Homo sapiens: one gene and its partners. The protein of the gene in region 4 purifies or fractionates together with the protein of the main gene of each other region. This does not show direct contact. Each region holds a gene or a part of one and is shown on either strand. Other genes may lie near its edges.

Region 1 (7,514 bases), on a different chromosome or scaffold from region 4:
ATGAAATTTTGGTAGGGGAGGGAAACAGGGCCTCTATGTCACCATTCATGTTGTACTTTCTTGGAGTGGTAATTTTGAAATGTTTGCCACCTTGGATTGAAAGAATTTGTGATTTTTTATTAAAGAACTTGAAGAACTAATTCAGTAAGTGAGTGCTTCCTTTGCAATATTACAGGTACCTAAATACAGTCGTTGTTCTCATGAAGTCTTTAGTGTGGTTGAAGATGCAATTACAGTGTACTGAGTGTTCAGTGCTTTGATCAGAAAAACTAAATTGGAGGGTATCAGGTTTTAAGCTGAATTCAGTTGAAACTAACCAGGCCTGGCGTGGTGGCTCACGCCTGTAATCCCAGCACTTTGGGAGGCCAGGCAGGTAAATCTCTTGAGACCAGGAGTTTTGAGACCAGCCTGGCCAACATGGCAAAACCCTGTCTCTACAAAAAATACAAAAATTAGCCAGGCGTGGTCGTGGGCACCTGTAGGCCCAGCTACTTGGGAGGCTGAGGCAGAGAATCACTTGAACCCAGGAGATGTAGGTTGCGGTGAGTCAAGATGACACCACTGCACACTCCAGCCTGGGCAACAGAGCAAAACTCTGTCTCAAAAAACAAGCAAACAAAAAACACAGGTAGCAAGAGAAATGAGAACAGCACGGAATACTCCAAGTAGAGGGAATAGTATACTCAGGAGTTTGGAAAGTGAGACAGAACACAGTATATTTTAAGATTTCAGACTGGGTATGGTGGCTCACACCTGTAATCCCAGCACTTTGATTGGCTGAGGCAGAAGGATCACTTGAAGCCAGGAGTTTGGAGACCAGCCTGGGCCACATAACAAGACCTCGTCTTTACCAAAAAAAAAAAAAAAAAAAAGATTTTGAAAAGATATAATTTTTTTGGGGGGGGGGTTCATTAAAAGCTGTTATTCAGTGATTACATATATATGTGTATGATCTCCAAATTATCATTTATTTCATAGCACTATCTCTTTTCATTATTTATTTTCTTAGCCCTTCAGTAATGAGAATGGTTCTATCTGTGAAGTGTGACATTTGGTCTTCAGTTTAGACAGATATAGAACGATTAATGTATCATTGAAAATAGCTCTTCAGTGGCATGCCAATTTCTGGGCCTTCTGCATTTTTCTTCTATCTTGTCACCTGTTTTACCTTCTTTTTATCCTTTAAATTTAATATCATTTCCTTGTAGACAAGTGTAGGTGTTCCTGCTGTGTCCTTTTATAGCATTATACCTACCTTATCAAAGCAGTTATCATTACCATACTCTGCTATAGCTAGTTTAATTATTGATCTGTTAGACTGTAAATTACATGTGGACAGAGATTTTATTTTGCTTACCATTGTATTTCTAGCCCAGTGTTCATTACATGTTTATAGCCATAAGTTAATGAAGAATTTATTGCTATTTTTGTTAAGATTTATAATGACAAATTTATCCAACTAGTAAATGGCTTTCAGTTTCTGAAGAATAAGCTTCTGAATAGAAATACAAATCAATTTTTGCCTCCAAAGAGTTTTCCTTGAGGACCACTGCCTGGAACTTGCAGTAATCTAAAATTGAAATAGAAACAATTAGCCGGGCTTGGTGGTGGGTACCTGTAGTCCCAGCTACTTGGGAGGCTGAGGCAGGAGAATCACTTGAACCCTGGGAGGCAGAGGTTGCAGTGAGCTGAGATTATACCACTGCACTCCAGCCTGGGTAACAGAGTGAGACTCTGTCTTAAAAAAAAAAAGAAAAAGAAAAAAAGGAAAAGAAATAAATGTTACCCTTTTGATCCTTTTAATTGCCTGCTTAAATGATAGCTCTCTGTTGGACTGTCTTGATCCAAGAATAGAGAGATCATAAGTCAGTAAGAGATGAACTTCAAGTATAATGACATGTTTTTCTCCTGTGAAAACAGATAAAGTTAATAAAGTTGGTGAGATCCATGTGAAGACATTAGAAGAAATTCTTCTTGAAAGAGCCAGTCAGAAACGTGGAGAATTGCAAACTAAACTCAAGACAGAAGGACCTTCAAAAACTGATGATTCTACTTCAGGAGCAAGAAGCTCCTCCACTATCCGTATCAAAACCTTCTCTGAGGTCCTGGCTGAAAAAAAACATCGGCAGCAGGAAGCAGAGAGACAAAAAAGCAAAAAGGATACAACTTGCATCAAGCTAAAGATTGATAGTGAAATTAAAAAAACAGTAGTTTTGCCACCCATTGTTGCCAGCAGAGGACAATCAGAGGAGCCTGCAGGTAAAACAAAGTCTATGCAGGAGGTGCACATCAAGACGCTGGAAGAAATTAAACTGGAGAAGGCACTGAGGGTGCAGCAGAGCTCTGAGAGCAGCACCAGCTCCCCGTCTCAACACGAGGCCACTCCAGGGGCAAGGCGGCTGCTGCGAATCACCAAAAGAACAGGTAACAAGAGAACTTGGTCTCTAGTACCACGTCCCCACATAATATTCCAGAGGAGTGTTCCGTGGGATCTTCCTAGGAGTTGTTTGACAACCTTTCTTTACTCAGATAACGTTGAAAACACTGAATTAAATGAAGTTTTTCAGTAGTGCTATGTAGACCTATGCTATTTTGTTTTATTTTATTTTTGAGACAGAGTCTCACTCTGTCACCCAGGCTGCAGTGCAGTGGCATGACCTTGGCTCACTGTAGCCTCCACCTCCTAGGTTCAAGTGATTCTCCTGCCTCAGCCTCCCAAGTAGCTGGGGCTACAGACATGTGCCACCACACCCCGCTAATTTTTGTATTTTTAATAGAGATGGGGTTTCAGCATGTTGGCCAGGCTGGTCTCAAACTCCTCACCTCAAGTGTGATCTGCTTGCTTCAGTCTCCCAAAGTGCTGGGGTTACAGGTGTGAGCCACCATGCCCGGCCAACCTTTGCTATTTTAATGTGTATTTTGAGACTTTAGGAGCACAGATGGGCTTTATCTGTAATTTTATTTGTCCTGTCTTACTACTTTCATTAAATAAAGTTTTGTTTAACATATCTATCATGAAGTTGCAGCTTAAATAAAATAACTAATGATGTCTTTAATGTGAATACAGGGATGAAAGAAGAGAAGAACCTTCAGGAAGGAAATGAAGTTGATTCTCAGAGCAGTATTAGAACAGAAGCTAAAGAGGTAAATTTAAGATTATTGTATGGTTTTGTTCATGGCAAACAAAGGCTAGATAATTGGTAGTTTTACCTTACAATAAATTTCTAAGTACTTCATTCATATATTAGGTAAACAGTCTTTCTTTTTACTTATAATTTCTTATGAGAATTTCCTGTAGTTCTATGTATATCAGTATTCGCTGCCCTTTTAAAGTTTTTTGTTTGCCGGGCGCGGTGGCTCACGCCTGTAATCCCAGCACTTTGGGAGGCTGAGGCGGGCGGATCACGAGGTCAGGAGATTGAGACCGTCCTGGCTAACACGGTGAAACCCCGTCTCTACTAAAAATACAAAAAATAAAGTTTTTTGTTTAATTGGCCATTACTTTTTTTTAACTGAGTTTTTTCTAATGCTATGCATCATACAAAAGTTGGAAATTTTATTTTTTTTAAAACTGAACAAACCCTAAAAATATACAGCTCAGATGTAACCATCATTATCTTTTCCATGGATTTCTTCGAGCTTTTTCAGTCTTGCTCTGTTGCCCAGGCTGGAGTGCAGTGGCATGATCTCGGTTCACTGCAACCTTTGCCTCCTGGGTTCAAGCGATTCTTGTGCCTCAGCCTCCCATGTAGCTGGGATCAAAGGCATGCACCACCAAGCCTGACTAATTTTTGTATTTTTAGTAGAGACAGAGTTTCTCCATGTTGTCCAGAGTGGTCTCGAACTTCTGGCTTCAAGTGATCTGCCTGCCTTGGCCTCCCAACGTGTTGGGATTACATGTGTGAGCCACCACACTTGGCCTTCTTCGACCTTTTTGTTTATATATGCATGCATGTGAATTTGTTTAATGTTAAACCCATGTTTAGAACATAATGGAGAACTCTACAGTGTATCATTTTACAGCCTGCTTTAACTTTACCATGTTAATAATTCTTCAAGAAGTTTGTTTTTACTGACCACATGATTCTCCATTATACAAATACAGTCTTTTTCTGGACATTCAGATTTTGTTTTACACAATTTAAAGTAATATATTTGTACATAAATCTTTGTGCAGGTATTTGATTATTTAGGAATCATTAGTATTTGACTTAGAGTCATGGTTGTCTAGCCTGTGGAATCTGGGTTTTTTATTATTCCATACATCTGTAATTCTAATCTTTCATCTTTAACAGGGTATTGTCTATTTAACATCAAATAAAGAGCTTTTCTCTCAGATTCTGGATCATGTGAGATTCTGCTTAACTTAGATGTTAGCCTGGTACTTACATCATACAGGTTATTAGAGGTACCAGATTTTAATTCTGTCATTCAAATTTATCCACAGGCTTCAGGTGAGACCACAGGAGTTGACATCACTAAAATTCAAGTCAAGAGATGTGAGACCATGAGAGAGAAGCACATGCAGAAACAGCAGGAGAGGGAAAAATCAGTCTTGACACCTCTTCGGGGAGATGTAGCCTCTTGCAATACCCAAGTGGCAGAGAAACCAGTGCTCACTGCTGTGCCAGGAATCACACGGCACCTGACCAAGCGGCTTCCCACAAAGTCATCCCAGAAGGTGGAGGTAGAAACCTCAGGGATTGGAGACTCATTATTGAATGTGAAATGTGCAGCACAGACCTTGGAAAAAAGGGGTAAAGGCAAGTATTTCTATACTGTGTATTGCTTTAGGTTATCAAAATTACCAAATTCAACCCAATTGTTGCCAGTAACTTCCTGGCAACAATTGGGTTGAATTTCATTTGCCTTCTATCCACAGGTAGATAGTAATATTTCTGATATTTTTATACAGAGGCAAAACGAGATGAATTCTTTTCTCAGAATTTAAAATTGCTATTTAAAAAGCTTTGTGTAAAACTTTCTATGGTGCATCTTTCCTCTGGTATTGAATAAAAACAAGGAATAGAGGAATGGTAACAAATTTAAGTGGTATTGTATCTACATGGTGACCACCTGTAGTGACCACCATGTGACCACAAATTGCCTTTGAATCGTTTTCAGTCTCTTTTTAAATGAATTATTTGTGGTATTTCTAGTACTGAAGGAGTTTTGATATTTTATTCTGAATTATTCCCCATTTAAAAGAGTCTATTCTCACTGCTTATCAGATATTTTCTGCCCTTTGTAGCTAAACCCAAAGTGAACGTGAAGCCATCTGTGGTTAAAGTTGTGTCATCCCCCAAATTGGCCCCAAAACGTAAGGCAGTGGAGATGCACGCTGCTGTCATTGCCGCTGTGAAGCCACTCAGCTCCAGCAGTGTCCTACAGGAACCCCCAGCCAAAAAGGCAGCTGTGGTAAGAAGTATATTCACTTTGTGGTGCTTTATTCTGTGTGGTAGGAAAGCAGGAAAGACTAACTCTCCACTAGCATTCTATCTTGAGTATATCACTTCCTGGCATTTCCTAGCATTTTAGTAATTTGGGTTACTACTGTATTTTATACTTACAGTTTGATATTTGTGAAGTAGCAGGACAGGATTTTTTAAAAGCTAATTTTTAGGTGGCAAGATATTTTGCTTATTTATATACTCAACCTTTAGATTATCGATTCTTAGATTCACAGGCTTAAAGAATCATAGCCACAATTCTAAGAAGGCAGCAAAAGAAAATGAATATGCTCAAATTAAAAAGCCTGACTCTCACTGAATTACCTGACTCTTCCTTTTGTAGGCTGTTGTCCCGCTTGTCTCTGAGGACAAATCAGTCACTGTGCCTGAAGCAGAAAATCCTAGAGACAGGTAATACTTTGTAATTCTTTCTAAACAAACTCCAGGCCCCTGTTACTGTTTAGGCTCTCTAGAGAATAACACTGATAAATAACTTTAGCAACATTCAAATAAATCTGTTGCACTTCAAATTAATTGCAAGAAAGTATGAAAATCTAGGGTTGCTGTTCTTCTTTGGTGCCATTGTTTACATTTTGCTATATTACCTAAAAGATGTTTTTTTGTTTTTTTGTTTGAGGCAGCGTCTCACTGTGTCACCCAGACTGGAGTGCAGTGGCACAATCTCTGCTCACTGCAACCTCCACTTCCCGGGTTCAAGCAATTCTCCTGCCTCAGCTTCCCAAGTAGCTGGGATTACAGGTGCCTGCCACAAGGCCTAGCTAATTTTTGTATTTTTAGTAGTGACAGGGTTTTGCCACATTGTCCAGGGTGGTCTCAAACTCCTGACGTCAAGTGATCCACCTTCCTCGTCTTCCCAAAGTGCTGGGATTACAGGCATGAGCTACCATGCCCGGCCCCTGAAAGATGTCTTTAACACCTACTTTGAGTTATAAAAATGCTTGGTGCTGGCCAGGCAAGGCGGCTTATGCCTGTAATCCCAACATTTTGGGAGACTGGGGCTGGAGAATCACTTGAGCTCAGGAGTTCAAGACCAGCCTGGACAACATAGTGAGGTCTTGTCTCTAATAAAAATCAAAGAAATAAAAAAAAAATCACATGGTGACACACACCTGTAGACCCAGCTACTTGGGAGGCGGAGGCAAAATGATCGCTTGAGCCCAGGAGGTCGAGGCTGCAGTGAGCCATGATTGTACCACTACACTCCAGCCTGGGTGACAAAGGGAGACTCTGCCTCAAAAAAAAAAAAAAAAAAAAAAAAAAAGCTTGATCCCAAATCAGTAAAAGAATTATTTCTTTATGTATGTTCTTAAAAACAAATTTTTGCTCACTTTGTGTCCGTGAGACTAGGTGATTCAGCCAACTATTTTTAAAACGGCAGTTTTCTAATAATCTTTTTTTTCTTACAGTCTTGTGCTGCCTCCAACCCAGTCCTCTTCAGATTCCTCACCCCCGGAGGTGTCTGGCCCTTCCTCATCCCAAATGAGCATGAAAACTCGCCGACTCAGCTCTGCCTCAACAGGAAAGCCCCCACTCTCTGTGGAGGATGATTTTGAGAAACTAATATGGGAGATTTCAGGAGGCAAATTGGAAGCTGAGATTGACCTGGATCCTGGGAAAGATGAAGATGACCTTCTGCTTGAGCTATCAGAAATGATTGATAGCTGAAGGTGGTAGTGAGGACACTTTAAAAAAAAAATCGCCAAAAAACTGGACTTAGTTTCATCTATTGTAACATTTACCTGAGATGATCATTTCTTTAGTCTAGAATTTGCCCCAAATCAGAAGTATACCTCTGAATTATCTGTATGTGTCCTGGATTCCTTGGGGTCAGATTTTTAAAGTTACTTTATAACCATTTTGTCCATTTGATGCCATTGTTTATCATCTTTTGAGAAAAAAGTTCTGTCATACCCTTCTCTCCACAAAAAAGAGACTGAGAGGGAGATCAAGTGAAAGGGTGCAAGCGAACTTAGTGACTCCTTGAGGTGTTTGTCAGTTTTGGCTTTTTTCTTCTTTGTTGTATTCTTTATGTATTGTCTTGAT
Region 2 (7,514 bases), on a different chromosome or scaffold from region 4:
CGGGAGGAGGGGGACTAAACTCAACCTAACACATTAAATGTGGAAGGAAAATATTTCATTTAGCTTTTTTATTTTAATACAAGTAATATTATTACTTTATGAACAATTTTTTTTAATTGGCCATGTCGCCAAAAATACAGCCTATAGTAAATGTGTTTCTTGCTGCCATGATGTATATCCATATAACAATTCAGTAACAAAGGTTTAAAGTTTGAAGATTATTTTTTAAAAAGGTAAATGGTTAAATTTTACATGACAGATATTTTATCTATTGGCCTGTTCCCCAAATGGCCATTTTAAAATGCTTGGGTACACTTCTCTTAAGTGGTCTAGTCAAGGAACCTCAAGTCATGCTTTTGCTATCACCAATCATAGTGTACCCATCTTTAATTTATATCAGGTGTATAAATGTACATTTCCAAATGAACTTGCACTTGTTATATTATAATTGGAAGTGCAGTCAGCAGATGCTGTTGTGAAGCTAATGTCACAATTATGTGCAAAGGTGTGCTTCCTGCTGTATGTGAGCTGTAAAAATGTTACGTGAAGAAATAAATGAAACTTGGCCAGTTTGTTCCTCTAGTAGTATATTTAATTTTGACATAAGTAACTTTTAAAATTTGTCTTAAAAATTTATACACCAGCAATTTAGACAAAGCCTTAAGCAAATTTTGTATTATTGTTCTCACTTATTATTAATAATGAAGTAGAAGTTACTTAATTGCCAGCAAATAAATACGTGTCAAAAAAGAATCTGTATTCAGACCCTGGGTCAGGAAATTACTGCCCACTTGTCAAGTTCAGCCCACCATCTGTTTGAAGATTATATGAAGTTTAAATTCTAGTGTCCATAAATAAAGTTTCAGCGGAACACAGCCGTGCTTATGTGCGTATGTATTGTCTGACTGCTTTTGCAAAACGGCAGAGTTCAATAGTTGCACCTGAAACCATTTGACTTGACAAGCCAAAACTATTTTCTGGCCCTCTGCAGAAAGGGTTTGCTGACCTCTGATTTAGACTAGCATCTAACATTGATTTGCCCACATATTGAAAGGGTCAGTGGAGTTTTCATTTATTATTTTTTATTTTTTTGAGATTGAGTTCCAGGCTGGAGTGCAATAGCGCAATCTTGGCTCACCGCAACCTCCGCCTCCCAGGTTCAAGCGATTGTCCTGCCTCAGCCTCCCCAGTAGCTAGGATTACAGGCATGCACCACCACGCCTGGCTAATTTTGTATTTTCAGTAGAGACGCGGTTTCTCCATGTTGGTCATGGCTGGTCTCGCACTCCCGACCTCAGGTGATCCACCTGCCTCAGCCTTCCAAAGTGCTGGGATTACAGGTGTGAGCCACCGTGCCCGGCTGGAGTTTTCATTTTTTTTTTTTTTTTTTTTTCTGAGATGGAGTCTCACTCTGTCTCCAGGCTAGAGTGCAGTGGCCCAGTCTTGGCTCACTGCAACCTCTGCCTCTCGGGTTCAAGCGATTCTCTTGCCTCAGCCTCCCGAGTAGCTGGGACTACAGGTGCGTGCCACCATGCCCAGCTAATTTTTGTATTTTTAGTAGAGATGGGTTTTCACCATGTTGGCCAGTATGGTCTCGAGCTCTTGACCATGATCCGCCCACCTCGGCCTCCCACAGTGCTGGGATTACAGGCGTGAGCCACCGTGCGCTGAGTGATACGTGGTTCCCTTTAACTTCGCACATGGTAAAATCAGTTTCTTTCCATGATCTGTTTCACAGTCTCTGTGAAGCTACCTACCACAAAGAAGTAGTGAGTGATGACTTTCTAGAATCTAAGTATATGGCATGTATTTATTATAAGTAAAACATTAAGTTTGCTGATTGTTTACTTGTGATAAACAATTATTGTGAACTTTATTTGTGCTGGACATAAGTGTCTGTTTTACAGTGAAATTCCATTATAGAGGGTTACTTGGTAGAGAAATGCAAATTGTAGTTGGTCATATACTAAAATTTGAACTTTTTACATATCAATACTTACAAATAGGTGTTTATTTTCCCACAAAACTCCAGAACATTTAAGAGTCTCGGGTGTTTAAATTTGATGAGATTTACCCAAACAAATAGTGAACAAAAGGTTTATGAAAATAAGTTATGAAACTAAAATACTTAATAAACATCCAGTGACAATAAAAATAGCTTGAGTCTTTGCTTATATAAAATTTCATGCTAATTTTTCACTTCTATATTAATTGGAGGTAATAATGCAAATTAAGTTATAGAAATGAAGATTCAATGAAATGCAGTTGCTCATCCTGGATTTCTTCATATTCAGTTTTGGTGTAGACAACTGGTGAAGAGAGATGGCTCAGAGGCCAAGCCTTGCAATCTAGGAGCCCAGCCCTGTCCTTTAAGGGCTTGATCTTGAATAAATTGCTTAACAGTTGGTCTATAGTTCTACACTTTTAAAGTATGTTTCACAGAGGGTGGTTCCAATAAATAAATGCACTGGCATATTCAAATGTTGGATAATTTTTCTCTAGCTTTCTTCAAGTTTCTCATAAGGACAGGTGGGTAGCCACTTATTCTTTAAAAAAAAATAGATACAATACAGAGTCGTGTTGGACTGGCAGTCTTAAATCACTCTTGTTATTTCCAGTGGACATTAAAAAAAAATCACAGATAAGTACTTAAAACACTCAAGATTTGGGATTTAGATCATGATTAGATACAATAGAAAGATCCTGGAATCCCGACATGAGGACAAAAATGGTACTGAATTCTTTTTGAAAAATAGATTACTGAAAAGCGATCTAATATAGAACAGTTGCTTTTACTTAGATGTTCAATGCATATTTGTTGTATAATAACCAAGTTATTACAGTTCAGATAAAGGGTCCAAAGTGTTTTCGTTATGATATAATACTTTCTATTGTAAACTGGACTAAAGAAACGTTGTATGTTCAAGGAAGTGTTGAGCAGCCATGGTGTTCCTGGGACAGGCTCCCCAGGTGCTGAGAGAGGTGCTGCAGGAGTCACAGACCTGCAGGCACGCACTTGCCAGTGACTGGGACGTTGGCTGGTGGTTCTCTTTTGGTGTGATTAGAGCTATGTGAGTTGTCTCAATACTTGAGACTGTCGGTGGTTGCCAATGCTGAATAAAGCATTTATCAAAGTAAAAGCCATTTCCTCTTATTATATATTATTTTAGAAAGAGTACACATTTAGTTGTGATATCCTTTTGTAGTTCACATTTATGTAGTGTTCCAGGTAATAAGTTACCTGGAACTTACCTGAACACTTCAATATTTCATTAAAGTATTAAATCTTTTTCTTAGGCAAAATGATTAAGAGCTTCATCTGTGCACTTCTAAAGACATGATGTGCTCTCGAGGACATCTAGCTTTTTTCCTTCTATCTAATGTAATTTATGGCTCTAGAATCCTTGGCATATATGGAGAGAGGTTTTATTGATACTGTCTGCCTCCCTCTCCATTTTAGCGTGTAGAATGTGCCTCTTTCATCGCAGAGTCCAGGCAGTTCTCAGCACCTTGGGGGCTAGATTTCCGGGGTTTTTTTAATCTGGAAAAATTGCTAGTCCGTGACTGCATTTCTTGAGGCACTCGTGTTCTCTGCACAGGCTCTCATTGTGAACTCGTGGAGGGCTTAGGAAGACACCGCTAATGGGAAGGAGGTGGGAGAGCAAATGTGTGTTGTGTTACTAAGTCAAAATTGCCTCCTGAGGCTTTTTATGAGGGGCTTTGTTTCAGAGTATTTATTTTAACTATTCCGTCTTTGTTTTTTAAGCAGCTCATCAGTGAGAATCCAACTATTACATTTTTTTCTAACAAACCAAACATTAGTGAGCTGTGCCCCCTGTGCCACCAAAAGAATGAGAGGAATTCTATAACTGGAATGAAGAAAATCATTAGGCCAGTTCTCTTTCCTTACCTCAAATACTCTGTATTACTTGACTGTTCATAAAGATGGGGTTGGTATTTTTCCAATTAAAAACCCCAATCTGAAAAGAAGCTACTACAAACTGAGTAACAGGTTAAATCTTTTTTTTTTTTTTTTTTGTTTCCCCTGAGACGGTGTCTTGCTCTGTCACCCAGGCTGGGGTGTAGTGGCCTGATCTTAACTCACTGCAACCTCTGCCTCCTGGGTTCAGCGATTCTCCTGCCTCAGCCTCCCGAGTTGCTGGGATTAGAGGCATGCACCACTACGCCCAGCTAATTTTTTTGTATTTTTGGTAGAGATAGAGTCGCACCATGTTGGCCAGACGGTCACAAACTCCCGATCTCGTGATCCGCCCGCCTCAGCCTCCTAAAGTGCTGGGATTACAGGTGTGAGCCGCCACGCCCAGCCCAGGTTAAATCTTGACTGGAGCCAGTAAACTCCATTAAAGTAAAATTTTTCTTTTTCTTTTTTCTTTTCTTTTTTTTTTTTTTTTGAGACAGAGTCTTGCTCTTGTTGCCCAGGCTGGAGTGCAATGGCACGATCTCGGCTCACTGCAACCTTCGCCTCCTGGGTTCAAGCTATTCACCTGCTGCAGCCTCCCGAGTAGCTGGGATTACAGGCGTGTGCCACCAAACCCGGCTAATTTTTGTATTTTTAGTAGAGACAGGGTTTTACCATGTTGGCCAGGCTGGTCTTGAACTCCTGACCTCTGGTGATCCACCTGCCTCAGCTTCCCAAAGTGCTGGGACTACAGGTGTGAGCCACCGTGCCTGGCTAAAGTAGAAATTTTCTTTTTTTCTTTTTTTTTTTTTGAAGTGGTTAGAAAAATTTATTTTGTGCTTAGGATTTTTTTCTTTTTCTTTTTTCCTTTTTTTTTTTTGAGACGGATTTTTGCTCTTGTTGCCCAGGCTGGAGTGTAATGGCGCAATCTTGGCTCACTGCAGCCTCCGTCTCCTGGGTTCAAGAGATTTTCCTGCCTCAGCCTCCCAAGTAGCTGGGATTACAGGCAGGCGCCACCACGCCACACCCAGCTAATTTTGTATTTTTAGTAGAGACGGGGTTTCTCCATGTTGGTGAGGCTGGTCTCGAACTCCTGACCTCAGGTGATCCACCCGCCTCAGCCTCCCAAAGTGCTGGGATTACAGGCATGAGCTACAGCACCTAGCCCCTTAGGATATTTTTCTAAGGCATCACAAGTTACACATCCAAACTCTTCAATGGTATAATATTTTATATTAAAGTAGAATTTTCTACGAAACAAGAAAATGCTTGTTTCAGCAGGCAACTTTAAATAAAGGTACTCAGTGTCGTGGTGTATGTATATCAATATAGCCACCATTTATTGCCTCCTATATGCTAGACATTGCTAGCACTGCATACTTCATATTTTATGACAACCCTGCCAAAAAATGGCTGCTTTTCCTGATGAAGGTGCTGAGACTCCAGCCAGGGACCTGACTTGCACAAGGCCAACGCCCTGCATCTGGCTCCAAAACCAGCATCCTTGACCACCGCCTGGCACCCGGAGGCCTCCTCATGGTCAGGACCTGGCGTTGCTGCTGGTCTTCCCTGAACGCCTAACATGCCAGGAGTGTGCTGTCCTCCCAGCTCTGTGGGGGTCTTACAACTGAGAAAGCCATAGAAGGTGAAAGAAACGCTCATGGTCTCACGGGAGGAGAGAGCGAAAAAGTCTTAATTGCTGGGCTTCTTTGCCTGAATGAAGGGATCTGCAGGAGCCACGGGTATTTGCACTACCAAGTTCTCATGCTTCTGATTTTCCTCCAGGTAAACCAGGATGCTTACTTCAAGTTTCTTGTTTTGCCCTACAGTGAATTTTAGGATTGTAATTTACCTGCAAGGTTTTTGTTTGTTTGTTTTGTTTTGTTTTTTCGAGATGGAGTTTCGCCCAAGCTGGAGTGCAATGGCGCAATCTCTGCTCACTGCAACCTTCGCCTCCCGGGTTCAAGCAATTCTCCTGCGTTAGCCACCCGAGTAGCTGGGATTACAGGCACGCGCCACCACACCTGGCTAATTTTGTATTTTTAGTAGAGACGGGGTTTCTCCATGTTGGTGAGGCTGGTCTTGAACTCCTGACCTCAGGTGATCCGCCCGCCTCGGCCTCCCAAAGTACTGGGATTACAGGCATGAGCCACCGTGCCCAGCCTACCTGCAAGGTTTTAAGCAATTCACTAGGAGCCATGCACGGTGCTAGAATCAGCATGAGAGTCAAAGTCAGATTTGAATCAGGACTAGTTTATCACAGGTTAACCTCAAGGAAGTCACTCTTCTGTACCCAATGTTCTCAGAAGCAAAATAAGGACAGTGATAATGCCCATCCCAGGAGTGGAGGCCCAGACTTGTTAATGTCTGAAAATACTTCAGAAATGCTAGAGCACTGTACAGATAACAATTTGAGTAATATTTTTGGTCAAATTATTCTAGTTTAACACATGTATTCTTAAAAAATGGACTTGTGATTCCTTACAGCTAAAGAGAATCAAGTCCACCCTTAGCATGTTAGCGGTCACTGCCAGGTTCCTGCTGCACGAGGAGGAAGTCCTCCATGGCTGCTTTTCTATAAACAATTCCATTTCTCGTTGTAGAACACAGAAGTAAATACATCGAATTTTTATTTTTAGTAGCAATCAGAGCCTACTAAACTTCCTTTTGACTCACCTCTTGATTGAATTCAGAGTAGGCAGAAAATCTCATTCAATCTCTTCACTGTGTGGGTGAGGAAACCGAGGCCCAAGGGTGATGAAGCCACTTCCTCAAAGGCACTCCGTGAGTTGGTGGTGGGGCTGCCGGCAGGATGAAGTGCTGTTACTCCAGGCCAGAGCCACTCCCCCGCTTCATCAGCCATGCTGTTTCATGGGTGCACCTGTTCTCATTTATGTGGACGTTAGGAACCGTGGGTCTCTCGTGTTAAGCCATAGGCCTTTAATAAAGACGTGTAGAGTAAAGCCTGAATCCAAGAATTGACATTTAAACATGAAACATTTTCTTTTCTAACTTGGAAACCAGTTCTAAAAACACACCTAAAAGGGAATTTCAGTTTGATTTGTGTGAAGGGAATATTTTTGGATAAATCTGTATGCCATTGGAAATGCAATATTTCTAAATGATTAATATTTGAGACATTAATGTAATGAGACATGTAATGTCATGTAATGTAACGAGACATGTAATGACATGTAATGTCATTACATATTTGAGACATGTAATATTTGAGACATTAATGTAATATTTTTATTACATTTAATAAATTTTATTTTTATTATAAAATTTTTATTATAAAATTTTATAAAAACAAATGTAATGATCAATCACAGAGTTTAACAATGTATCCATTTACAAAGATGCCTGGAAACAGTTTGCTGTCTCCCAAAGTGTTTATTTAACATAAGAAATTGTTAGATAAATACTTATTTTCTCTATTATTTGAGCATCTTTTGGTTGCAAGTAACAATAATTGACTATGTCTCAAGCAAAGACAGGAAAGATAAGAGAAGTGTCAGAAAATTCAGGAATCGGAAGAGCAATGAGGACACCGCAGCAAGGATTTTTCTCTGCAGCACAGATGTGTTCAGACACA
Region 3 (7,514 bases), on a different chromosome or scaffold from region 4:
AACAACAAAAACAAAAACAAAAACAAGGTTGAAAATTGGGGCCAGTAAGAAAAAAAAGTAAAAAGCAGTAACTCATAAACATTTTTGTGTTGTTTTCAAGTTGTTTGACCTATGTAAGTCATCTGCCTCTCTGTATTCCATTTCTCCTTATCCCCTCAACTCCACTCACACATTAAATAATACAAGAAAACTACCGATGGATATATATCTTCCCCAGTTATACTTACTGTCTTATAACTGTGTCCATCCAAGAAGAATTTGCTTCGGGAACTTTTAAACATGCCAAAGCTGAAGCTTTTATGATGAAGTCATTGACAGAAATTTTGCTTCTCCCTTCTAATATCTGGAAAGACAAGAAGAACTGTAGTTTCTTCTTTTTTAATTTTAATTTTAATTTTAAGTTTCAGGGTGCATGTGCAGAATGTCCAGGTTTATTATATAGGTAAACATGTGCCATGGTGGTTTGCTGCACCTGTCAACCCATCACCCAGGTATTAGGCCTCACATGCATCAGCTATTTTTCCTAATGCTTTCCCTCCCCGGACAACTGTAGTTTCTAAATTCTCTCACCAAAGAGTAAAACTGTATAATCGTGAGAAAAGGAGGAAGAGAAAGAGAATATACAAATATCCTGAGGTGGAAAGAAAGAAATGAAACCAAACATTGGTTCTTTCATCTTTTTAAATGCGGACTCTTACAGCTGTTTCCTGCTAAGCACTGCTTTAGCATAATCCCATAAGTTACAGTATGTTATGTCATCATTTTCATTCATCTCAACAATAACAAAATTTGGTTCTTTGAAAAGATCAATCAAATGACAACCACAATGATAAATGTTTAGTTAGACTGACCAAGAAGAGGAGAGAAGACTAGAATTTCTAAAATTAGGAGTGAAATAGGGGACATTACTATCTACCTTACAGAAGTAAAAAGAATTATAGGGAATACTATGAACAACCATACAGACACAAGCTACCAAAACTGAACCAAGGAGAAACAAAAACTCTGAATAGACCTATAACTAACAAAGAGATTGAACTGGTAATTTAAAAACTACCCATGTAGAAAAGCTTAGACCCAAATGGCTTCGTCAGTATTCTACCAAATATTAAAGAAGAATTAATATCAATTCCTCACAAATTCTTTCAAAGAAAAATCAAAGAAGAGCAAGAAACACTTCCCCACACATTCTGTAAGGCCGGGATTAGCCTGATACCAAAACCAAAGACGACATTAGAAGAAAAAAAAAAAAAAGTACACACTAATATCTTATGAATATAGATGTAAAAATCTTCAACAAAACGCTAGCAAATAAAATCCAGCAATATATAAAAAGGATCATTCACCATGATCAAATCTGATTTATCCCAAGAATGCAAATTTCCATTAACATCTGAAAATCCATTAATGTAATAATGTCCTAACAGAATACAGGACAAAAAACACATAATCATCTCAACAGACACAGAAAGAGCATTTGATAAAATTCAATACCCCTTTTCATGATCAAAACACTCTTACTAACTGGGAACAGGAGGGAACTTGCTCAACCTGATCTATGGAAACCTCACAACTATTTAATGACCAAAGACTTATTCTCCCAAAGATCGAGAACAAGACAAGATGTTCACTTCTGCTACACCTATTCAACATTGCCTAGAGGCGCCAGCCAGAGCAATTAGGCAAGAAAGGAAATAAAAGGCATACAGGTCAAAATGAAAAAAGTAAAATTATCTCTATTTGCAGATAACATTATCTTGTTTACAGAAAAACCTAAGAAATACACTAAAAAACTGTAAGAACTAATAAATGACTTCAGCAAGTTTGCAGGATACAAGGTCAATATAGATCCCATTTCAGCAGGTATATGAAAAAAAAGATCAATATAGAAAAATGAATTGTTATCTCAATTGATTGCTCAGAGTCCATTATAAATCTAACTTCTTTTCTACTCTTCCGCCCTTCTCACTAGTATACCTGACTAGTCTTAAAAAAAAAAAAAAATCAATCATACCTTTATATAGTAGCAATGAACAATCTGAAAATGAAATCTAGAAAACAATTCCACTTAGAGTAGTATCAAAAAGAATAAAATACCTAGAAATAAGTTTAACAAATGCAAATTTAGAGTGCAAAACTTACACTCTGAAAAACTATAAAAAAACTGTTGAAAGAGACTGAAGAACACCTAACTAATACAGGGGCATCTACATGTTCATGGATGAAAAGACTATATTCTTCGGATGGCAACACTTGCCAAACTGATCAGCAGATACATCCAATCAATCCTTATCAAAATGTCAACTGGCTTCAATGCAGAAATTTACAAGCTAATCCTAAAATTCACTTAGAATTGCAAGGGACTCAGACAAAACAATCTTGATTCTGGCTAACACGGTGAAACCCCGTCTCTACTAAAAATACAAAAAATTAGCCGGGCATGGTGGTGGGCGTCTGTAGTCCCAGCTACTTGGGAGGCTGAGGCAGGAGAATGGCATGAACCCGGGAGGCAGAGCTGGCAGTGAGCCAAGATCACGCCACTGCACTCTAGCCTGGGTGACAGAGCAAGACTCTGTCTTTAAAAAAAAAAAAAAAAAAAAAAAAAAATCTTGAGAAAAAAGAACAAAGATGACTCACGTTTCCTGATTTTACAACTTATTACAAAGCTAAAGTAATCAAGACTGTGGTACTGACATTAAGGGTATACAGAGATTAATGGAATGGAATTAAGAACCTGGAAATAGGCCAGGCATGGGGGCTCATGGCTGTAATTCCAGCACTTTGGGAGGCCAAGGTGGGTGGATCATTTGAGGTCAAGAGTTCGAGACCAGCCTGGCCAACATGGTGAAATCCTGTCCCTACTAAAAATACAAAAATTAGCCATGCCTGGTGGCTCATACCTGTAATCCCAGCTACTCGGGAGGCTGAGGGACGAGAATTGCTTGAACCTGGAAGGTGGAGGTTGCAGTAAGCCAAGATCACGCCACTGCACCCCAGTCTGGGCAACAGAGTGAGACTCAGTCTCAAAAATTGGCACATGACAAGGATGCTCTCTCTCACCACTCCTATTCAGCATAGTATTGGAAGTTCTGGCCAGGGCAATCAGGCAAGAGAAAGAAATAAAGAGTATTCAAATAGAAAAAGAGGAAGTCAAATTGTCTGTTTGTAGATGACATGATTGTATAGTTAGAAAACCCCATCATCTCAGTCCAAAATCTCCTTAAGCTGATAAGCAACTTCAGTGAAGTCTCAGGATACAAAATCAATGTGCAAAAATCACAAGCATTCCTACACGCCAATAACAGACAAACAGAGAGCCAAATTGTGAGTGAATTCCTATTCACAATTGCTATAAAAAGAATAGAATACCTAGGAATACAACTTACAAGGGATGTGAAGGACCTCTTCAAGGAGAACTACAAACCACTGCTCAAGGAAATAAGAGAGGACACAAAAACAAATGGAAAAGCATTCCATGCTCATGCATAGGAAGAATCAATATCGTGAAAATGGACATACTGCCCAAAGTAATTTATAAATTCAATGCTATCTTCATCAAGCAACCATTGACTTTCTTCACAGAATTAGAAAAAAACTACTTTAAATTTCATATGGAACCAAAAAAGGGCCCGTATAGCCAAGACAATCCTAAGCAAAAAGAACAAAGCTGGAGGCATCATGCTACCTGACTTCAAACTATACTATAAGGCTACAGTAACCAAAACAGCATGGTACTGGTACCAAAACAGATATATAGACCAATGGAACAGAACAGAAGCCTCAGACATAATGCCACACATTTACAACCATCTGATTTTTGACAAACCTGACAACAACAAGCAATGGGGAAAGGATTCCCTATTTAATCAATGATGTTGGGAAAACTGGCTAGCCATATGTAGAAAACTGAAACTGGACTCCTTCCTTACACCTTATACAAAAAATAACTGAAGATGGATTAAAGACTTAAACGTAAGACCTAAAACCATAAAAACCCTAGAAGAAAACCTAGGCAATACCATTCAGGACACAGGCATGGGCAAAGACTTCATGACTAAAACAACAAAAGCAATGGCAACAAAAGCCAAAATAGACAAATGGGGTCGAATTAAACTAAAGAGCTTCTGCACAGCAAAAGAAACTATCATCAGAGTGAACAGGCAACCTACAGAATGGGAGAAAATTTTTGAAATCTATCCATCTAACAAAGGGCTAATATCCAGAATCTATAAGGAACTTAAACAAATTTACAAGAAAAAAACAAATGACCCCATCAAAAAGTGGGCAAAGGATATGAACAGACACTTCTCAAAAGAAGACATTTATGTGGCCAACAAACATGAAAAAAAGCTCATCATCACTGGTCATTAAAGAAATGCAAATCAAAACCACAGTGAGTTACCATCTCACGCCAGTTACAATGGCGATCACTAAAAAGTCAGGAAACAACAGATGCTGGAATGTGGAGAAATAGGAACGCTTTTACACTGTTGGTAGGAGTGTAAATTAGTTCAACCCATTGTGGAAGACAGTGTGGCGGTTCCTCAAGGATCTAGAACCAGAAATACCATTTGACCCAGAAATCCCATTACTGGGTATAGACCCAAAGGATTATAAACCATTCTACTATAAAGACACATGCACACATATGTTTACTGCAGCACTGTTCCCAATAGCAAAGACTTGGAACCAAGCCAAATGCCCATCAATGATAGACTGGATAAAGAAAATGTGGCACATACACACCATGGAATACTATGCAGCCATAAAAAAAAGGATGAGTTTGTGTCCTTTGCAGGGACATGGATGAAGCTGGAAACCATCATTCTCAGCAAACTAACACAGGAACAGAAAACCAAACACCGCATGTTCTCACTTGTAAGTGGGAGTTGAACAATGAGAACACATGGACACAGGGAGGGAAACATCACACACCAGGACCTGTAGGGGGGTGGGGGGCTAAGGGGAGGGATAGCATTAGGAGAAATACCTAATGTAGATGATGGGTTGGTGGGTGCAGCAAACCACCATGGCACGTGTATACCTATGTAACAAACCTGCACGTTCTGCACATGTATCCCAGAACTTAAAGTATAATAAAACAAAACAAAACAAAAAATAACAAGATCTACAAAAAAAAAAAAATCTGGAAATAAAATTCTCACATATATGATTAATTTTGACAAGGATACCAAGACAATTCGATGGGGAAAGATGGTGCTGGGATGAAAGAATAAATGTCCACATGCAAAACAATGGTTGGATTCCTATCTCACACCACCTATAAAAAATTAACTCAAAATAGAGCAAAGACCTGAATATAAGAACTAAAAGTATAAAACTGTTACAAGGAAACAAAAGTATAAATCTTCATGACCTTAGACTAGGTAATAGTTTCTTAGATATAATACCAAAAGCACAGAAGAAAAAAATTGATAAAAGTGGACATAACCAATATTTAAAATCTTGTGCTTCAAAGGACAAGATCAAGAAAGTAACCACCAACTGATATATTGTAACAAAATATATGGACAAAAATATAAATGTTTGGTGGGGAAAGACAAAATTTTTATAACTTAGAAAGTTGGAATTTTCAGAACTTTTACCTTATTAAGTTCTTTCCGTACCAACAAAACTTCTCCCATATTTACATCGATAGAAAGGTAATAATGAGGTATGGTTTGCTTTGATTGCATTAATCGCTGTGCAATAACCTGAAACCAAAGAGATTTAAAAAATCAATTATCTTGAGTTAAGACCTTAACTAATTTAGGGCTCTGTTTGTCTCTTCACCTTACTCTCTGCTAATACTTACCTCAAGCATTATTATAATTGAAAGATGGAGGACTCCGCCATAATATAACACCTCCTAGATTTTTTTTTTTTTTTGAGATGGAGTCTCGCTATGTTGCCCAGGCTGGAGTGCGGTGGTGCGATCTCGGCTCACCACAACCTCCATTTCCCAAGTTCAAGCAATTCTCCTGCCTCAGCGTCCCGAGTACTTGGGACTACAGGCATGTGCCACCATGCCCGGCTAATTTTTGTATCTTTAGTAGAGACGGGGTGTTTCACTATGTTGGCCAGGCTGGTCTCGAAGTCTGGACCTTGTGATCTGCCCGCTTTGGCCTCCCAAAGTGCTGGGATTACAGGCATGAGCTACTGCGCCTGGCCCTTCTAATAGGAACAAAGTGATTCAAGTATTCAGTTGGCCAAAACTTCCCTTAAAGTAATCATCCAATATTCCCAACTTAAAAAGCCTCTGTTAATGTGTTAAAAACTATGGAAGCAACTAAACAACCTAAAGATGCCCCTAACAGCTGATTCCAGATGATGGTAATTCTCTTACCCGACGAATGTTGCTGATTGGGATATCTGTGAAGACACCTGTAGGAACTGGTGCCATTCCAGGACCTGTGGGAGGCACAACAGCTGCCGGAGCCTATGGGAGGAAAGAAAAAGCTCTTAGTAACTGTGATTCAATCTTAGCGTAAGTACCTGGGAAAGACTGCCAGTGACTATGCAGTTTTTTTTTTTTGTCTTTTGAGACAGAGTCTTGCTCTGTCACCCAGGCTAGAATGCAGTGGCTCAATCATGGTTCACTGCAGCCTCAACCTCCTGGGCTCAAGCAATCCTCCCATCTCAGCCCCTAGAGTAGCTGGGACTACAGGTGCACGCCAACATGCCCAGCTAATTTTTTTGGATTTCTAGTAGAGACGGAAATTAGCCACGTTGCCCTGGCTGGTCTCAAATGCCTGGGCTCAAGTGATCCACCCACCTTGGCTTCCCAAAGTGCTGGGGTTACAAGCATGAGCCACCATGTCCAGTCTAAAAACTAAGCTTTATAGAATACCTATTTCTGTCCCCAGTGAGCAAAAGAGACTTCTGCTTGTTTTAAGAGTTTTAATTTTTTTACTTAGAATTCTGAAGTCATGTTTTAAGTGTCATTTTTCTTTGTATCAGAGTATGTTCAATGACCAGTTTGTGTCAAAATAATTTTGTTTTTGCAAAATTATGTTCAAGAAAAGCAATGGAAGCATTCTTAAGTTGCAAGGAATAATAAATAAGTATAAACAAGCTAATCCATTATCCTAAACAATGTTAAGAAAAGGGGGTTGGGAGGCTCACTTGAGCCTCACAATGACTCACTTGAGGCCAGGAGTTCGTGACCAGGCTGGCCAACATGGCGAAACCCTGTCTCTACTAAACATACGAAAATTAGCCAGGTGTGATGGCATGCACCTGTAGTCCCAGCCACCTGGGAGGCTGGGGCATGAGAATCGCCTGAATCCAGGAGGCAGAGGTTGCAATGAGCCAAGATCGCGCCACTGCACTCCAGCCTGGGCGACAGAGTGAGACTGTCTCAAAAACAAACAAACAAAAAAAACCAAACACCAAAAACAACTCATTCAACTGTACTTTAAAATATTTTGAAAAAGAAAAAAAGAACAAATCTTTTATTTCAAAGCAAAAACCGATTAACTAGCTCAAAACATAATGTGGAATACATGTCAATG
Region 4 (7,514 bases):
GCTGCAAGAAGCCTCGCCGCTGTCACCACTGGGCATTGGCAATTGGTTCAGGGGGAACGGCGCGGAACCAATGGGAGCGGTGGCTCGGGAGAGACCTTGGAGCGCGCGGGAAAGAGACCAATATAAACTGTGGCGGGATAGTTTTCGGGTCCTTGTCCAGTGAAACACCCTCGGCTGGGAAGTCAGTTCGTTCTCTCCTCTCCTCTCTTCTTGTTTGAACATGGTGCGGACTAAAGCAGACAGTGTTCCAGGCACTTACAGAAAAGGTGAGGCGATCGAGTGTGGTACTGGAGGGCGGGGGGGTCCTCCCGGCAGCCTGGCCACGGGCGACAGACGCCAGAGGTCCCCCTGGGCCCTGTGCGCCAAACTCATCTAGCTAGCCAGGGAGTAGCCGCCTGGCCCCTTTACCTAGAAGAGGAAGTCGCAGGGGCAGGGTAAGGTTATCCTGCTGTTCTGGATCGCCAGGCTCTCCTCTCCAAGCTGCTGGGGTCCAGGACTCGGTGTCGGAACCCTCCTGCCCCTTCTGAACACCCTTTTTTGCCTCTCTTCACAGTGGTGGCTGCTCGAGCCCCCAGAAAGGTGCTTGGTTCTTCCACCTCTGCCACTAATTCGACATCAGTTTCATCGAGGAAAGGTAAGAAGAGCCCTCCTAAAGTTAGGGGATCAGTCCTGGCACCTGCAAGCCCCTGGCTTGCCATGAATTTCTTTTTCTTGAGGTACTCACGCCCGAATTTCTTCCTTGCCCTGTGATATAATAAGAGAGGCTGGGCCTTTTGGCCGGCTAGGGTAGAGGTGGGGGGGAGGTCTCATGGAAGGGAATTTCAAGCCTTGGAGTTAAGGACCGACACACCTTATCTTCAAGCCTATTTTTCTTTTCTTTTCTTTTTTTAGACAGGGCCTCTCTTTGTTGCTCAGGTTGGAGTGCAGTGGTGCAATCACTGGTCACTACATCCTCCACTTATGGGGCTTAAGCAATCCTCCCACCTCAGCCTCCAAAGTAGCTGGGGCTACAGGTACATGCCACCACGCCGGGCTTTTTTTTCTATTTTTTGTAGAGATGGGGGTCTCACTATGTTGCCTAAGCTGGTCTCAAACTCCTGGGCTCAAACAATCCTCCTACTGGGATTACAGGCATGAGCCACCACAGCCAGCCTATCAATTTTTGTTTTTTGGTTTAGTATTTTCCTTTTTCTTTCTCTTTCTTTTTTTGAGACAGAGTCTTGCACTGTTGCCCAGGCTGCAGTGCAACGGTGTGATCTTGGTTCACTGCAACCTCCGCCTCTCGGGTTCACACGATTCTCCTGCCTCTGCCTCCTGAGTAGCTGGGATTACAGGTGCACGCCACCACACCCAGCTAATTTTTTTGTATTTTTAGTAGAGATGGGGTTTCACTATGTTGGCCAGACTGATCTCAAACTCCTGACCTCATGATCTGCCTGCCTCAGCTTCCCAAAGTGATGGGAACACAGACGTGATCCACCACGCCCAGCTATTATTTTTCTTAATAATAACAGAGGCTATTTAAATATTGTTAGAGGCTATTTAAAAGCCCCCTTAGTAGATTAAGGGTTTGAACAATCGTTAACAGTGCTGAGTGCTCATTGCAATGTCTACTAAACTTTAATAAAAATGTTTTTGTTTTTGTTTGCTTGTTTTTCCTTTCTTCCTTACTCTTTTTTGTTTGTTTGTTTGTTTGAGTATGATGTCTGTGGGTTTTCTCCAACTTTGCAGCTCCTAATACTGTCTTTGGGAGAGTAGGAGTGAAACCCGGCAAAGGAAATAGCTTCACGCTGCTCCTTCTGTGCGTGGAGTAGATGAGAAAATGCCCTGCCATCTGGTGCCTCATTCCTTTCAGTAGGAAATTTGGCAGACAGGGAGATTAACGCTACAAGATTTAATTAAGAACATAAAGGTGAACACTGTTTAGGACTTCATGGGTTTTAAAGTCAATTCAAATTTCTCCCTATTATAAACATTTCATTAGAAAACATTTACTATTTCTATCTCTTCAGATAAAAGGAAATAGAAGTTGATGAATTTTTTTAGAGTAACTTATACCCTGTACCACTAGACTAAGTTTCTTTTTCTTTTCTTTTTTCTTTTTTTTTTTTGAGACAGGGTCTCACTCTGTTGCCCAGGCTTGAGTGCAGTGGTGCAATCACAGCTTACTGCAGATTTGACCCCAGGGTTCAAATGATCCTCCCACTTCAGGCTCTTCCCAAGTAGCTGGGACTGTAGGCGCATGCCACCACACGCCCGCCTAATTTTTGTGTTTTTTGTAGAGATGGGGTTTCATCACATTGCCCAGGCTGGTCTCGAACTCCTGGGCTGAAGCAATCCTCCCGCCTCAGCCTACCAAAGTGCTGGGATTACAGACGTGAGCCACCACGCCTGGCCTGATGAAATTTCATTAGAGCCGCATCTCATCGTCTGGTCCACTGTTGAATCACCAGAGCCAACTAAATAGGCCCTTACTGAATATATGTTGAATAAATGCATCCTTTAAGGCATTTTAAAAATCTCTATTTTTAATCCGAATAATTGGATGTATGAAATGGGTAATATCCTTATTTTAAAGATAAGGAAATTTAATATCTGGTTATATAACTTGATAAAGGTCACACAACTAAATCAGTGGAGTTGGGTTTGAACCTGTTGCTGCTATATTTTTTTTTTTTTCTGAGACACAGTCTCGCTCTGTCACCCAGGCTGGAGTGCAGTGGCATGAACTCGGCTCACTGCAACCTCCGCCTCCCGGGTTCAAGCAATTCTTCTGCCTCAGCCTCCTAAGTAGCTGGGATTACAGGCATGCGCCACCATGCCTGGCTAAATTTTGTATCTTTAGTGGAGGCAGGGTTTCACCATGTTGGCCAGGCTGTTCTCAAATGCCTGACCTCATGATCCAACTGCCTCGGCCTCACAAAGTGCTGGGATTACAGGCGTGAGCCACTGCGCCCAGCTGCTGCTGTATGTTTTCTAGTAGTAAAAGCATTCCTGTAAGGTTCCTTTGGGAAAACTGTGAACCAAAAGATCACTATCTTTTATATGCCATTCCTTCTTTTGGAGGCGAAGGCGGGACGGTTGCCTCAGCCAGGAGTTTGAGACCAGCCTGGACAACGTGGCAAAACCCCATTGCTATTTTTATAAATGTAAATAAATAAGTAGAAACAATATAACTTCAGAGTCTATATGGAAACAACTTTTGTAAGCATTCTTTAACAACTAGAGTTGTTAAAGCAAATGTTTTAGCTTAAAGCAAAAGATTTGCAGTAACTGAATAATTTGTTCCTGGTCATTACTTTATAAAAAGGCAAGAATTTTCCCTCAATTTCTCCTTATATTACTGTTGAAAAATAACCAGGAATTGGCCGGGCAGGGTGGCTCACACTTGTAATCCCAGCACTTTGGGAGGCCAAGGCGGGCGGATCATGAGGTCAGGAGATCGAGACCATCCTAGCATGGTGAAACCCTGTCTCTACTAAAAGTACAAAAAATTAGCCAGGTGTGGTGGCGGGCGCCTGTAGTCCCAACTGCTCGGGAGGCTGAGGCAGGAGAATGGCATGAACCCGGGAGGCGGAGCTTGCAGTGAGCCAAGATCGTGCCACTGCACTGCAGCCTGGGTGACAGAGTGAGACTCTGTCTCCCCCCCAAAAAAACAAAAACAAAACAAAAATTAGCTGGGCGTGGTGGCGGGCGCCTGTAATCCCTGCTACTCGGGAGGCTGAGGCAGGAGAATCACTTGAATCCGGGAGGCAGAGGTTACAGTAAGCCAAGATTGCGCCACTGCACTCCAGCCTGGGTGACAGAGCTAGACTTTGAAAAAAAAAAAAAAAAAAAAAAAAAACACCAGGAATTGGACTTCTCTTATGAACTGAAAAGGAGCCAGGTGCTTTGAAAAATGGAATCTACTTTTGTGGAGACTTTCACATTGCCTCTTATATGTGCTTTAACTAAATGACCTTAGTAAGTAAAATGTTGGCACTTTATACTACATGGTCCTATCTTATGTTAGGAAAAAGTGTGTCAAACTTCAGTATGTCAGTACATACAAGAATATATATATATATATATATATATATATATATATATATATATATATATATTTTTTTTTTTTTTTTTTTGAGACAGAGTCTCGCTCTGTTGCCAGACTGGAGTGTGCAGTGGCGGCGCAATCTTGGCTCACTGCAACCTCCGACTCGCTGGTTCAAGTGATTCTCCTGCCTCAGCCTCCCAAGTAGCTGGGAATACAGGCACGTGCCGCCACACCCAGCTAATTTTTGTATTTTTAGTAGAGACGGGGGTTTCACCATGTTGTCCAGGTTGGTCTCGAACTCCTGACCTTGTGATCCACCCTCCTCAGCCTCCCAAAGTGCTGGGATTACAGGCGTGAGCCACTGGACCCGGCAAGAGTATTTGAATAGCTCTGCTTGTGGACAAAATATAAAAATATTTTTCAGTTGTAAAAATTCTGTTACTACTGTTATTGCTAAGATAACCATCACACTGAGTTTATTGGTGGAATACAGCTTTATTGTGTCACATTTTCTAATTCTTTAAGTTGTATATCTTAAATAAAGATTATTTAATACCTTTGAGAATTTGATGTTAAAGAAGGAATTAAGTTGTTTAAGGAATAGAGATTGTATTATTAGCACTTATCTAGTTCCATCTGTTTATATTTTACAGCTGAAAATAAATATGCAGGAGGGAACCCCGTTTGCGTGCGCCCAACTCCCAAGTGGCAAAAAGGAATTGGAGAATTCTTTAGGTTGTCCCCTAAAGATTCTGAAAAAGAGAATCAGATTCCTGAAGAGGCAGGAAGCAGTGGCTTAGGAAAAGCAAAGAGAAAGTAAGTTTTTATATTCTGGAATATAAAGAAAATATTTATCTCACGCCTGTAATCCCAGCACTTTGGGAGGCCGAGGCGGGAGGATCACTTGAGGCCAGGAGTTCAAAACCAGCCTGTCCAACATGGTGGAACCCTGTCTCTACTAAAAATACAAAATTAGCTCGGCGTGCTGGTGCACACCTGTTGTCCTAGCTATTTGGGAGGCTCAAACAAAAGAATTGCTTGGTGCAGCAAACCACCATGCACACATATACCTATATAACAAACTTGCATGTAATGCACATGTATCTCATTTTCACGCCACTGCCCTCCAGTCTGGGGGACAGAGTGAGACTCTGTCTCAAATAAAAAATTAATTAATTAATTAATAAAGAAAATATCTTGAAAATAAAGGACAAATAGGATATTGAGTCAAGTTTCTCTTCAAGCTCATAAGAAAATGCAAAAAAAGTTTTTAAAAACTTCTTCTAATTTCTTATTATAACTCACTCCCAAATTTCTTTTCTTTTTTTTTTCCTGAGACGGAGTCTTGCTCTGTTGCCCAGGCTAGAGGGCAGTGGCGCTATCTCAGCTCACTGCAACCTCCGCCTCCCAGGTTCAAGCAATTTTCCTGCCTCAGCCTCCCAAGTAGCTGGGATTACAGGCACACGCCACCACGCCCAGCTAATTTTTGTATTTTTAGTAGAGACAGGGTTTTGCCTTGTTGGCCAGGCTGGTCTTGAACTCTTGACTTTGTGATCTACCCACCTTAGCCTCCCAAAGTACTGGGATTACAGGCGTGAGCCACTGCATCCAGCCAGCAAATTTCAAACATTAGTAAAAAGTATTCTTTTTACTCTTCCCAATCTCTCAAAGAGGATCAGTTCCCATTCACATAAGTGCTATGTCATTAACCATGAACTTAGTGTATTGAGTCTTTAATTCTTACTGTCTTTTTCCTTTAGGCTTTTCTTACAAGGCAATTTCCTTGTTGGCTTATATAACTTGAATTCCATTAATCCTGTCCCTTAAAAAACTACCAGTTCAACTTGCACAAGAAATATATAACCAGGCTGTGTGCGGTGGCTCATGCCTGTAATCCTAGCACTTTGGGAGGCTACAGTGGGCAGATCGCTTGAGCTCAGGAGTTCCAGACCAGCCTGGGCAACATGGTGAAACCCCTTCTCTACCAAAAGGGTGGCGGCGCCGCCTATAATCCCAGCCACTAGGGAGGCTGAGGTGGGAGAATTGCTTGACCCTGGGAGATGAAGGTTGCAGTGAGCCGAGATCCCGCCACTGTACTCCAGCATGGGTGGCAGAGTGAGGACCTGTCTCAAAAATAGGCCTGGCACAGTGGCTCACCTCTGTAATCCCAGCACTTTGAGAGTCCAAGGCAGGCAGATCACAAGATCAAGAGATCGAGACCATCCTGCAACATGGTGAAACCCCGTCTCTACTAAAAATACAAAAAATTAGCCGGGCGTGGTGGCACGTGCCTGTAATCTCAGCTACTCGGGAGGCTGAAGCAGGAGAATTGCTTGAACCTGAAAGGTGTTGGTTGCAGTGAGCTGAGATCGCACCACTGCACTCCAGCCTGGGGGACAGAGCGAGACTCCATCTCAAAAAAAATCAAGTAAAATAAAAATAAAAATATGACCAATATGGAAAAGTTGGAAAATATAGAAATCCCCATCACCTAGAACCAACTAGGAATAATACCATGGTGTATTGTCTTTACAACTTCTCTGTAAGTACGTAAGAATAGTGAAAAACAAAAAGTAGGGATAAAACTACACACACCAAACTTGGTGTGCAACCTTTAAAAAAAAGTTTCCGAGTTTCATCCGTTGTATTTCATGAATATCTCATTCCTTTTTTCCTTTTTTTCTTTCTTTCTTCCTTTTTTTTTTTTTTTTTGATATGGGGGTCTCACTCTGTCACCCAGGCTGTAATGCAGTGGCCCAATGTTCGCTCACTTCAACCTCTGCCTCCTGGGTTCGATTGATTCTCCCACCTCAGCCTTCCAAGTAGCTGGAATTACAGGCATGTGCCATGGAGTTCAGCTAATTTTTTGTGTTTTTGGTAGAGATGAGGTTTTGCCACGTTGCCTAGGCCGGTCTCAAACTCCGGAGCTCAAGTAATCCACTTGCCTTGGCCTCCCACTGTGCTGGGATTACAGGCATAAGCTGCCACACCTGGCCAGTGTGCAAACTTTTTTTTTTTTTGAGACGGAGTTTCGCTCTGTTGCCCAGGCTGGAGTGCAGTGGTGCAATCTCGGCTCACTGCAACCTCCACCTCCCGGGTTCACACCAGTCTCCTCCCTCACCCTCCCAAGTAGCTGGGACTACAGGCGCCCGCCACCACGCCTGGCTAATTTTGTTGTATTTTTAGTAGAGATGGGATTTCACCGTGTTAGCCAGGATTGTCTCAATCTGACCTCATGATCTGCCCGCCTCGGCCTCCCAAAGTGCTGGGATTACAGGCGAGTGCAACCACACCCGGCCACAAACTTTTTAAGAAGTTAATGAAACCATACCTTTTACATTTTTAATGACAGGAAAATGCTCACAATAATTGTTAACCCAAAATTCTGGATACAAAAGTACAATCTTTACTGTGTAAATACATGTATATGTACTATATGAAAATATACCAAATATCAATAATACTTATCTCTGGGTAAAAA

What was found.
Region 1: the proteins of PCLAF (region 4) and ZC3H11A purify together in Homo sapiens (affinity purification with mass spectrometry, with the first as the bait; one large-scale study listed by BioGRID). This does not show direct contact.
Region 2: the proteins of PCLAF (region 4) and ING1 purify together in Homo sapiens (affinity purification with western blotting, with the first as the bait; one study listed by BioGRID). This does not show direct contact.
Region 3: the proteins of PCLAF (region 4) and DLAT purify together in Homo sapiens (affinity purification with mass spectrometry, with the first as the bait; one large-scale study listed by BioGRID). This does not show direct contact.

Annotation. Positions count from the first base shown.
Region 1 is NC_000001.11:203,845,264-203,852,777, forward strand, and holds part of ZC3H11A (zinc finger CCCH domain-containing protein 11A), read left to right. Parts: intron 1-1,920; coding exon 1,921-2,424; intron 2,425-3,067; coding exon 3,068-3,144; intron 3,145-4,447; coding exon 4,448-4,763; intron 4,764-5,251; coding exon 5,252-5,418; intron 5,419-5,793; coding exon 5,794-5,861; intron 5,862-6,877; coding exon 6,878-7,136; 3' UTR 7,137-7,514. UniProt on the Homo sapiens protein: Through its association with TREX complex components, may participate in the export and post-transcriptional coordination of selected mRNA transcripts, including those required to maintain the metabolic processes in embryonic cells.
Region 2 is NC_000013.11:110,720,200-110,727,713, forward strand, and holds the end of ING1 (inhibitor of growth protein 1), read left to right. Parts: 3' UTR 1-3,140; downstream 3,141-7,514. UniProt on the Homo sapiens protein: Cooperates with p53/TP53 in the negative regulatory pathway of cell growth by modulating p53-dependent transcriptional activation. Implicated as a tumor suppressor gene.
Region 3 is NC_000011.10:112,044,063-112,051,576, reverse strand, and holds part of DLAT (dihydrolipoyllysine-residue acetyltransferase component of pyruvate dehydrogenase complex, mitochondrial isoform 2 precursor), read right to left. Parts: intron 6,440-7,514; coding exon 6,347-6,439; intron 5,715-6,346; coding exon 5,607-5,714; intron 362-5,606; coding exon of another isoform or gene 344-361; coding exon 228-343; intron 1-227.
Region 4 is NC_000015.10:64,374,078-64,381,591, reverse strand, and holds the start of PCLAF (PCNA-associated factor), read left to right. Parts: upstream 1-150; 5' UTR 151-220; coding exon 221-266; intron 267-553; coding exon 554-634; intron 635-4,686; coding exon 4,687-4,849; intron 4,850-7,514. UniProt on the Homo sapiens protein: PCNA-binding protein that acts as a regulator of DNA repair during DNA replication.